Regions from separate parts of the Homo sapiens genome. Here region 2 is linked to region 1. Evidence: fine-mapped expression QTL. A gene starts in region 1. The other region holds a variant in brackets. All regions are shown on one strand. Distances are between the middles of the regions.

Region 1 (5,373 bases):
TAGTAAGTGGAAAAGAGCTTTAACTTCGATAAATCAATTATTTTGAGTTTTAGGCTCATATTTTGTACCAATTGTGTTAATACAAGTTAGAACTTAAAACCAAACATTTCAAGTAAACATTTCTAAAATATTAGAAATATTTCTAATAAAACATTTATGTGGTTTTGTCCTCAATTTTCCACAATAAGAGTCACCAAAAAACTTTCAAATAATATTCACAAAATTATAAATGCAATCATTTTAGACCCCTACTGAAATACCAGTTTATGAGTGCCTGTGTGTGGATTACGTACATGCACACACACGGACACACATAAACTAGCACATACACAGAAACACACACTCCACAACCTACTTTATTTATCATATTAAAAAAATATTTAGACAAGATTTTATTTTAGGACAGTGAATGACCTACACGTGATTCAAAAGCCCATGTCATCATAACAGATAATGTACATGAACTGACCATTTAGCCATCTGATGCGACAGTTGCATGAAGCTTCCAAAACTTTATGGAGAACATTACGGTTTTTTTTAAGGCTTGATTTTAAATATTATCAATTACAAAGAGCTTTTCATCAATCCGACTTTTATTGAACACTTACTATATTCCAGGCTAGGTGGTGGAGAAACAGATGCAAGACAGGCCTGCCCTCAAGGAAGTCCCATTTTGATTGCTTGCTTTTGTCAGGCACAGCACTAAACATGTTCACTTAGAGCATCTGACCTCCTAGGTTTAACGTTAACCACAGCAGGGGAATCTGAGGTAACCATTACAAATGACTGTAAGGCTGCAAGACTGGAAAAAATAAAATTTAGAAATAAATAAAAGCTGTTGTATATTTAGACCAAATCTAATTCTACTTCCTATTACACTTGAACTTCCAGATATACTGCTTAAAAAATGACCCAGAATATAACCATACCTTCCTTAACAGACATCACTTATGTAACTGTCTCATTTAAAGGTCCATCTATTATACTTCAGTCAAAGCATCCTCTTCCATGAAAGGATACTTTACCTTCACACCAAACCTCTTCATCTGAGTACGGTACTAAACAGCTGCTGAATGAATGAATGAATGAAAAAACAGATGTTCTAATTGCCAAGGAGGTACTTGCTGGATGCTTATCTCAAAACACAATGGACTGACGGACCAGAATTCTACTGGAAAGATCGCTGGATTTCAGAGGTAAAAATAGTAATCACTGGACAATGCCATGTAGTCAACATGTTATTAAATTCGCAGTAAAGACCAAGCAGGGAACTTTCAGAAATAAAAACGGAAAGTGTTCATCAGGGTACTTTAAAATGGACTTGGTTCTACCATCTCTGAATCGGGAACACAAATGCGAGACAAAGAGATGGGAGGGTGGGGTGAAAAAGTCAAAAGGTCACCACCGATGACCCTCAAGAGAAATGCGCGCTGACCACCGAAGCTCGGGCCAAGCTGGATGGACACCTCCCACCCGAGCCACGGGCCTGGGCTCTCTGCCCTGCAGCCCAGAGCTGCAGGCCACTCTGGCCCTTTTCAGCGCTGCTGCCTGCGTTCGCCCAGAACGTTAGCACAAAGAAAGCATCGAGAAGCAAAATACGGTCCCTATGGGCGCGGGGCAGGCTTGGGGACCTGCCGGCAGAAGCGCTCTCCCCGGCTCCCCGCCGCCCCGGAGGCAGCCAGGGCGCGGCGGGCCGCAAAGACACCTCCGTCCGACCCTTGCCGAAGTGTTTCAGAACTTGCCACCCACCCCCCCGCTCCATTTTCTTCTCCCGCCGCGGAGGCAGGACCCACGCGAAGAGGACGCGAGAGGACAGGCGGGCGGGGCTCGCGGCGGCAGGCGGGCTGGCGGGCAGCGGAGCGCACCCAGGTCCCGCAGCCCCACGCCCCCTCGGCTGGCCCCCGCCTCCGCGCCGCTATTGTTCCCGCGCCGCCCCCGCCCACCGCGCGCTCCCGCCCCCACTCCCAGGAGGGGGTTACGGCTGAGGAGAAGGCGGCGGCGGCGGCAGCGGCACAATAACATAAACACGACGGGGCCGCCTGCCGTCCCGGCCCTGCGGCGTCCGCCGCACTCACCCGGCAGCGCAGCGAACGGCGACAGGGAAGCCCGCCAGCGGGGACAGGGGCCGTCCGGGGTGGTCGCCGCGGCCGTTACCCAGCGCTGCTCGCGGCTCCGCAATCCAAGCCGCGTCGTCCGGCCTCGGCCGCTCGGCTGAGTAACAGAGACGCGGGCCGTCACCGCGCACGCCCGCGCACGTCATCGCGCAGGGCCCCGCCCCCGCGCCTCCCGAGCGGCCGGCGGGGCGGGGCAGCCCCGGGGCCCGGATTGCGGGGGCGGGGCCGCCGCCCGGGGACGGCGCTACTCCAGGGGTTACGAGAGGACTTGCGGAGGTCGCTTGGAGGCGGAGCCGCGGAGAGAGCCTCCGAGGGCTGTGGGTGAGGGGCGTGGCCTGGAGCGGGAGGGGCGGGCCCTGTGGCGGCACGTGGCGGCGCGTGGCCCCAGGGGACCGCATCTGGTTGGCGGCGGTAGCCAGGTCAGAGCTTAAGCCTTCGGGCCTCGTCGGCACAGGGTTGAAGGGCAGGTGCGCTTAGGCCTAACCTGCGCAGCGAACAGGCACCCCCTTCCGGTACACACACCTGAGTGATGAAGAGCTGGTTACCTTGACCGACAATATGTTCCATTCTGAGGACACCTGTCCGGGTCCCAGAAACCTACAGAGAGATAAGTGTTCTCTTCAGCTGCCCGGGAAAAGCTGCCTCCAGTTTTTCCAAAATCCACCTCCTCCGAGATTCCTTGCAAATCCACCTCTTCCCAGATTCCTTGCATTACCTGGTTTACTTCTGAGGCCCCACAAAGCGTGTAAATGTTACAGAAGCGATAAATTGACAAGTCCTTTAAATATCCAACAACGGGTGGAAAGGCGTTTGAACTACCTACACCATTCGGTAGAATACATTTTAGCAATTTAAATGCCATGTGTTCAAGGAATTCTTAACAACATAGGAACATGTTCACAATGTATCATTAAGAGAAAGAAGCAAGAAACAAGTCATATATAGAATGGTCCCACTTAGATACTATATATACACATAGAAAAAACCTGGAAAGAAATACACCAAATTATGTTAACAATGGTTCATCATTGGACTATGGAATAAAGGGTGACTTGGTTCTCGTTTATACTTTGGGTATTTTCTCATGTTTTCCGAGAGGAATAGTTATGTTCACAATCAGAAACAAGTAAGTTACTTTAATAATGAATATATAAATATTTGTTGAATAAATGAATGATTTCAGGTAAACTACTTTCCTATTACATGTGGGGCTGGCCTGTTTCTGGTGATTCTGAAAGGGAACATACAGATGATTATTCATTCATTCTCTTCCCATTTCCTCTCTCCCTCCCTCTCAACCTTCTTAATTTCCTTCCTGCCATCCTTTGTTCCTGCAATAATTATTTATTGCATGCCCATTCAGTGCCAGGCAATACAGTAGAGTTTACAGATTTAATCACTGTACTATGAAAGTAATAATAGTAAACGCAAAATTATCACTGTTTTATAATACAAATTGTTAAGGATACATAATACTATGAAACCAATTAATACACTAGTTAATAAGGCCAGAAAAGATTTCCCTGAGGAACTGTCACTTGAGCTGGGAATAGGTTTGACTAGACAGAGAATATTTTAGAGGTAGCTTTGCACGCAAAGGTCCTCTGATGAGATTAAGCAGGATAAGATGGAGAAATTCAGGAAAGGCCAGCTCTGCTGGAGGAGCAAGGAAGAAGGAGCTATGAGATGAAGTCAGGAAGATTGGTAAAGGGACCAAACGTAGGACATCCATATTGGCCATGTTGAAAATCTTTTTATCCTAAGTGCAATGGGAAGCCCCTGACATATTCAGCAAAGGGTGTGGCATGGTCAGAATAGCTTCTTGAAAAGATTCCTTATTGGAAAGAGCCCAGGTGGATGTAGGAGTAGCCTAGACGGTAAGAGGTGGAAGCTTGATCTAGGGTGATGGTCATGGAAATAGTTGATGGACATGGAAAGATCTGTGAATTATTTAGGAGGTCCAACGGGCAGAACTTGCACATTCTCCAAGTGATGGGTTATGTGGGGCAATGAAGGAGAGGGAGTCATCAAGGAAAACTCAAAGGTTTCTGGCTTGTGGCCAAGGATGGATGTTAGTGCTGGTTTACCAAGATGGGAATCTTGGAAAAGGACCAGACTGGCATTAAAATATCATGAGAGCAGGCTGTTTGGCTGTTTGAAGGCTTTTGAGATGCCCAAAACTGATGTTAAGTTGGTGGTTGGATATACAGAGCTGAGGTTCAGCTAGTTAAGAGACGAATCATTGACAGTGAGTGATTCCTTGAAGCCTTGGGATAGATGGGTCAGCCTAGGCCTGAGGAGAGGGCCTGCAACCAGGCTTGGGGAACTTCAGTGTTAAAGGGCCACAAAGGGGAAGATGAGTCTGTGATGAGCTGCCAGGGAGATAGAAGGATAACCAGGAGAGAGGTGTTCAAGAAGAAAGGGCTGATCAATAATATTAAACATAAGAGGAGGCTTGGAATCCTGGAGTAATAGAACCAGAAGTGAATTAGAGTGGGCTGGGAAATGAATGGGAGGTGAGAAAATAAAGGTGGTGAATATGGATGAGTCGGGCAGTGAAGTAGGACACAAGCATATTTTACATCTGATGGGAAGACTGTTGAGAGGGAGAGGTTGAATACACACAAAAGAGAAGGAAGACGTGTGTTTCCAGAGAGAACGGGGTGTGATTGAGTGCACAGACAGAGGTACCACCTACTCTTCACCAGACAAATTAAAGGCCTGGAGGTAACAAAAAACAATACAACCCTTAGAGCTGTTGTGAAGTGAGGGGAGTTGCTGGGAGCAGAGCTCCAGAGTTTCACGCCCAGTTCTGTGATGCTATTGTTAATAACCGCCTCTGTCTCACTCCACAGAGTGAGCTTCTGACTTAGTATCAGTCTACCATGGTCAGCTTCTGATTATCTACAACTAGAAAGAACATTCCACATATTTACATATGTGCGTTTGTGTGTTTGTGTGTGTGTATGATTGATTTCAGAAAGCATTTTGCTATTTCTGATGGAATGTAATTATCTCTGATATTCTGCAAATTCAAAATGCTTTTCTGTAACCCAGATGCAGTGTTGGGCCTTCTTCTTCCTTTTCATGCAATTCTTTCTTGTCAACCTGTTAGGGTTCCTTGTTAACCTATTAAGGGGCTGACTCAGAAAAAGAGGAAAATATAGTGAATTCAGGTTTCTTGTCTCTTGTCCCAGGGGAGCTGTCTTGGGGACACCTGGTCTTTGGATACCTCTGAGGCTGGGATGGGGAAAGGAGA
Region 2 (5,373 bases), 150 kb before region 1:
CAGGCAAGGAGGGGCCCCAGGTATATGGATTTGGGGTGCATATGGATACATGGAACCCCAGAATCCCAAATGTCAGGGCCAGAAGGTATTTATCTCAGTGAGCCTAGCCTGGGATTCATCCGGGATCAGGTGATAGCATAATGGCACAGCCACAGTCTCCTGGCCCCGTCTCATCTTTCCTGAGGGAAATGCAGCCCAGGGTTTAAGTCCATGGTTCTAGACAAGCAGATGAACAACCTGGGGCCCATATACGGCTTGGAACGCAAGCTCGGAGGAGATGCCAAGGCTCTCGTTTAGGACCTGAACTGCAGACCCCACACAGGACCCAGGGAAGGACTATGCCAGGCCCATTGCCACCACCATCCACAACTGGTCTACTTCTGCCTTGGCAGCTCCGAGCCAGAGCGGGAGACTGAGGCCTGGAGTGGACTCCTGGGGCACTGGAGAGGGGGTGATGAGCTTAGAAGCCTAGGTGTCACCACTGTGGACAGGAAGAGAGGAAAGGGCCTGACCTCCGACCTGCTCCTGCTGTTGGTCCCCGGATACCTGCTCCCCAACAAGGAGCCAGCAGCCCTGCATTGTGGGCGCCTTTGATGCAGCTCCTCCCACTCCAGCCAAAGTCAAGTGCAGTGGAGAGGGCAAGCTCGGGCTGGGGGTTGGCAGCACCTATGGAGGGCCTGCAGGATAGCTGTTCCTACCGCAGAGCAGGCAGCTCCCACATCGTCTTGCAGGGGACCTTGGGATGGCCACCAGGCCTGTGGAAGGGGCTCCCTGGCCCATGTCCCAGGGCCCTCCCCTGTGCAACCTGACCTGCATCACACTTGATTCCTCTGGCCCAGGGCAGCTGCTAGGGTGGAGCAGCTGTGCCCTGCAGGGCCCTGTGGCTTCACAGTTCCTGGAGTCCTACGCAGTCTACGCAGGACAGGTTCTGGACGGACTGACACAGACATGAGACTCAGGGATTCTGAGCAGGTGCCTAGGCATGATGGGTGGTCCCTGAGCTGGAGCTCCTGGCCATGGATACTTAGTCGTCCCTGCCCCAGCTCTATCCACTGCTCCCAGAAGCAGCACTGGCCTTTCCTTGACCAGGGCAGCTGGCCGCAGATGCAGCCCCCAGTGCGCCCAAGAATGCACCTGAGACCAGAGGCTGCCCCTTGGCGTCAGGGCGTACCAGTCACCCCTGAAGTCCCCTGGCATCCCAGGCCTCACACACCTGTCCTCTTCCCCCCCACAGCACAACAGACGTGCACACGGTGGCCTCCCTGCTGAAGCTGTACCTGCGGGAGCTCCCCGAGCCCGTGGTCCCCTTCGCCAGGTACGAGGACTTCCTCAGCTGCGCCCAGCTGCTCACCAAGGACGAGGGGGAGGTCAGTGGCTCCTGGGGATAGCTCCTGGGAGATGGGCTGGCTGGGTGGCAGCCTGTAGACTCAGGACACAGACTCTGACTTTTCATGAATTTTCATGGCACATGGATCCTGTGGAGGCCTGCTGTGTTGGGGGTGTGGTGGGGGCCTGGAGCATCCTGCTTGGGTGGGGGAGGGGCCAGGGCATCCTGCTCAGGTCGGGGAGGGCTGGGGAATCCTGCTGTCTGGAGCCATACCTGTCTGCGGCCTTGGTCCCTGGGAGGGGTGGGTCCGGTGTGCCCAGCTCTGGCTGTCACACCAGTAGGTGCTCACACTCCCCACACCCGACTCAGGCCACTCAGGCCCGTCACAGGCTCAGAAACCAGGACATCTTTTATTTATATCTTGCTTCCTTCCCAAAAGAATTTGAGCTGGCTCCCAGGACAGATGAGCCAGCCCTCCCGTCCCCACCCGTGCAGGTGCTGGTCTGCAGCCCCAGGTGGCTCAGGGCCAGGGAAGGACTGTTTGCCTTCCCTGCGGCCATGTGGGAGATGAGGGCTCACTATCTGGCAAATATTTGTGTCTTGATAAGTGAGCTGAGTGCTGGCCCTGACATTCCTCCACGGGCCCTGTAGAGGCTCACCCCTCACACCAGCTCCTTGGAAGCAAGTTAGCTTCCCAGGAGGTCACAGCTGGGCCCTGGCCACTCCTTGAGGGGAGGTGGAGGTGGTGGAGCCCTCTGGTCTGTTGGGGCTGGGCTGCCGTAGCCCCCACCTCCCTTCTCTTTGCCCACCCCTCCTCGCAGTCAGAGAACAGTCAGGGCCCTCATTGCCGGTGTTTGAAATTCTGTTCTTCATTCCTAAGGGCACTCTGGAGTTGGCTAAACAAGTGAGCAACCTTCCTCAGGCAAATTACAACCTGCTCAGATACATCTGCAAGTAAGCGGCTTGGCAGGAGGGAACCACACTTTCCTGCACTGGCTCCACGCTCCCCCAACCCCACAGCGAGACACGCAACTCTTCCTTGTCAGAGGGGGGCCCGGGTCATTCCCCACCCTGCACAGCCTCAACCCAGCGTGGACGAAGCAGGGAGTGGAAA[A/G]GCACAGACCCTGAGTTCACGAAGCTTACAGTCCCATGGGAGCAGCTGGTTTTAAACAGACCTGGGTAGATAATTCCAGAAGGGACATACCCTCTGTCCCTCCTGGGTGCCTCTTGCCATCCTGTCCCCCCGGCATCTGCCCCTTGACCCCAACCCTTCATGTATCCCCATCCTAGACACTGAGAAGGGGAATGCAGGGGCGGCGCTGACTGGGGTCTGGGACTTCCCAGAATTTGTGCCCACTACAATTTGCAGAGTCTTGTCCTCCTTTCACACAAATAGCGGTGGGCCCTTGTCCCAGTGACTTTTACTTCTGATGGCCCTCTTGGGCCCCAGGGGAAGCCTTCCCTCATCGAGCCTGGCAGAGGCAGGCTACACCCAGTGGGCAAAAGCCCACAGGCAGCAGGGCTCAGCAGGGGTGTGGCGGTGCGTCCAGGCCGCACACAGGAGACTGGGCATCACAACTTGCTTCTTTGATGACTGCTGCTTCCTTACTTTGCAGGTTTCTGGATGAAGTTCAGGCATACTCAAATGTCAACAAGATGAGTGTCCAGAATCTGGCAACCGTTTTTGGACCTAACATTCTGCGGCCACAGGTAGAGGACCCAGTAACCATCATGGAAGGTAAGTGGGAGGTGTACCTGGTGGCCCTGGGTGCTGCCGGGGTCTGGGCTCATCTTGGTCCACGGCAAGTCCTTGGAACCATCCCAGCCCAGGGCCAGGCCAGCAGGAGGGGTGGCTCAGGTGGCACATCTCCATCTCTGGGGACTTGGCAGGAACTTCTGCAGACCTCACCCCCGACCCCCATGAGGTTCAGCTATAAGATAAAAAAGGAACTTTGCCCTGCGATGGGCAGCAGCAGGTCACTGGGTGCAATTAGAATAGCCAGGGGTTTCTGTGGATGGAAGAGGCTGGAGGGATGGGAGAGGTCAGCACTTTTGCCCTTGAACACAGACATGTTTGCTTTTCTTTTACAATTAAGCAATTGTCATAGGTTCCTGGATGTCAGCTTTGCAAACCCTGGAGAATTTCTCTATGATAAATAACAATAAGTGATTAAAAATAGCAGCAACAGCAGCCGCTTTCAGTAAGCTTCTACCAAGTGCTTTGTTTGTATCATCTCATTTCAGGCTTTACAACCAGCCTGTGCTGTGGTAATCGCCCCCACTTTACAGATGAGGAAACTGAGGCCAAGAGAGGCGAGGGGACTCACCAGAGGCCAGTCAGCCAGACTTAGCAAAGGGCACAGGTGTAGGCTGCCATAGAAAAGACAGCCCACCTCATAGGGCCCATGGAACACTGTCCCCAGTGGAGTATGCATGAGAGACGTGCTGCTCAGACAGGAAGCCCACAGCTGAGGCTGTTCTTGCCCTTATCCCATGTTGAGGGACGTGGCGGAGTGCTTTTGCTCAAGTCCGCACTTTGGTCAGCCCTGGCTGGGTCTCCCACCCCAGGGCCCCTTGAGGCCAGGAAAACACAAGCTCCTACCTGCCTGGTGGTACAGATGCTTGAGGGAGGAGGCCTGCCCTGCCTGCTTCATGGAGTTCCTGCTTCACCTAGGTTCTTGGCCTCAGAATTCCTTCCTTGACTTCTTCCAGGATTCCTAGTCAACTTCAGTGGGAGAGTCCACCCTGGCACTCAGCCCTCCCTCCTACCGGGGGACCTCCTAGCGTCGGGCCTTTGTGGTGAGGGTGGCAGGAGGGAATGAGGCAGCTGGATAGATGCCCTGGTCCTTCCTGCACTGCCCACCTCCGCTGCAGGCCCCCACCCCACCACCGTAGGAACTGAGTCCCCAGGACTGGGGGCTGCATCTCAGGGGCCTTGGCCTAGACACGGGGGATTGTGTGTGTGCGAGATTATATGTATGTGGGATTCTGGGGGGTGAGCAGGGTGCACTATGTGTGCAGTTGTGTATGGGGGAATTTGGGGAGGCTGCGGAGGGTGCATTGTGTGTGCAATTGTGTGTGGCGGATTTTGGGCAGTGGGTGGGGTTCATTGTGCGATTCTGTATGGGGGGATTTGGGGAGGCTGGGTAGGGGATTTGTGTGTTCACTTGTGTGTGTGTAGGGGCTTTGGGGAAACTGGGTAGAGTGCATTGTGTGTGTAATTTTATGTGTGTGGGATTTTCGGGAGTGGGCATTGTATGTGCGATTGTGTGTTGGGGGATTTGGGGAGGCTGGGTGGGTGCATTGTCCAGTTGTGTGTGTGTGTGGGACTTTGGGGGTGGATGGGGTGCATTGTACGTGTGATTGTGGGGGGTATTTTAGGGGGTGGGCGGGGTGCATTGTGTGTGCAATTGTATGTGTGTGCCCCCACACAGGAAAGATGGCTCTATTCCCTGTCCCAGAGCCCTATGCTCCCAGAGTGTGGACATTCAGGCATGGCAGTTGTCAGCAGCACAGAGGGGTGACGTGGGGCAGCCGAGAGAGTTCTGGCATCTCAGGTCCCAGGTTCCAGTTCCAACCTGCCACCTGCTCACCGTGCAGCCTTGGTGCCTGCTTCCTCACCCCACCCCAGCTGGAGGGCGTGAGCGCAGGCACAGTGCTTCCTCCCTGCTTGCGGCTCTGTGCCTGAGGAAGGCGGTTCTGCGGCCCCATCCTGCTGTCCTGCCTGGAGTTGGAGGGTGTGTGGTCCTTTCCTCTGGGCGGATGAAGGCTCCCTTGAGGGGCGGCCTGGCTCTGGGGACAGGGCCAGCTCCCACGAAGCTGCAGCTTCTCCATGACTGGCAGAGCGAGCCTGGGCCGAGTGGCTGGCAGCAAGGCCCTTCTCCGCCTCTCTTCCCGGCAGGCACTTCCCTCGTCCAGCACCTGATGACCGTCCTCATCCGCAAACACAGCCAGCTCTTCACGGCACCGGTCCCGGAAGGGCCCACCTCCCCGCGCGGGGGCCTGCAATGCGCAGTGGGGTGGGGCTCCGAGGAGGTCACCAGGGA

Direction of the effects. Alleles are on the strand shown, and positions count from the first base shown. SD is a standard deviation of normalised expression in the study named.
For the expression in sigmoid colon of the gene that starts at base 2,220 in region 1, allele G in region 2 goes with a higher level than allele A (small effect, 0.35 SD a copy in GTEx).

The links. PIP is the estimated chance that this variant, and not a neighbour inherited with it, causes the effect. A credible set is the group of variants that fine-mapping cannot tell apart.
Region 2: its variant is the best candidate, but not a certain one, in a credible set for the expression of MAPK8 in sigmoid colon (GTEx, PIP 0.71).

Annotation. Positions count from the first base shown.
Region 1 is chr10:48,303,524-48,308,896 of GRCh38, reverse strand. MAPK8 (mitogen-activated protein kinase 8) reads right to left here and starts at 2,220. Exons shown (of 12, transcript NM_001323329.2): 1 at 2,076-2,220. RefSeq lists a silencer at 1,640-2,589.
Region 2 is chr10:48,450,996-48,456,368 of GRCh38, reverse strand. ARHGAP22 (Rho GTPase activating protein 22) reads left to right here. Exons shown (of 10, transcript NM_021226.4): 6 at 1,235-1,367; 7 at 2,208-2,281; 8 at 2,944-3,065; 9 at 5,229-5,373. Among named protein-coding and RNA genes, the nearest start is that of ARHGAP22-IT1, 58 kb to the left of the region's middle. RefSeq lists an enhancer at 1,348-2,325. The variant A/G (reference allele first, on the strand shown) is at 2,442.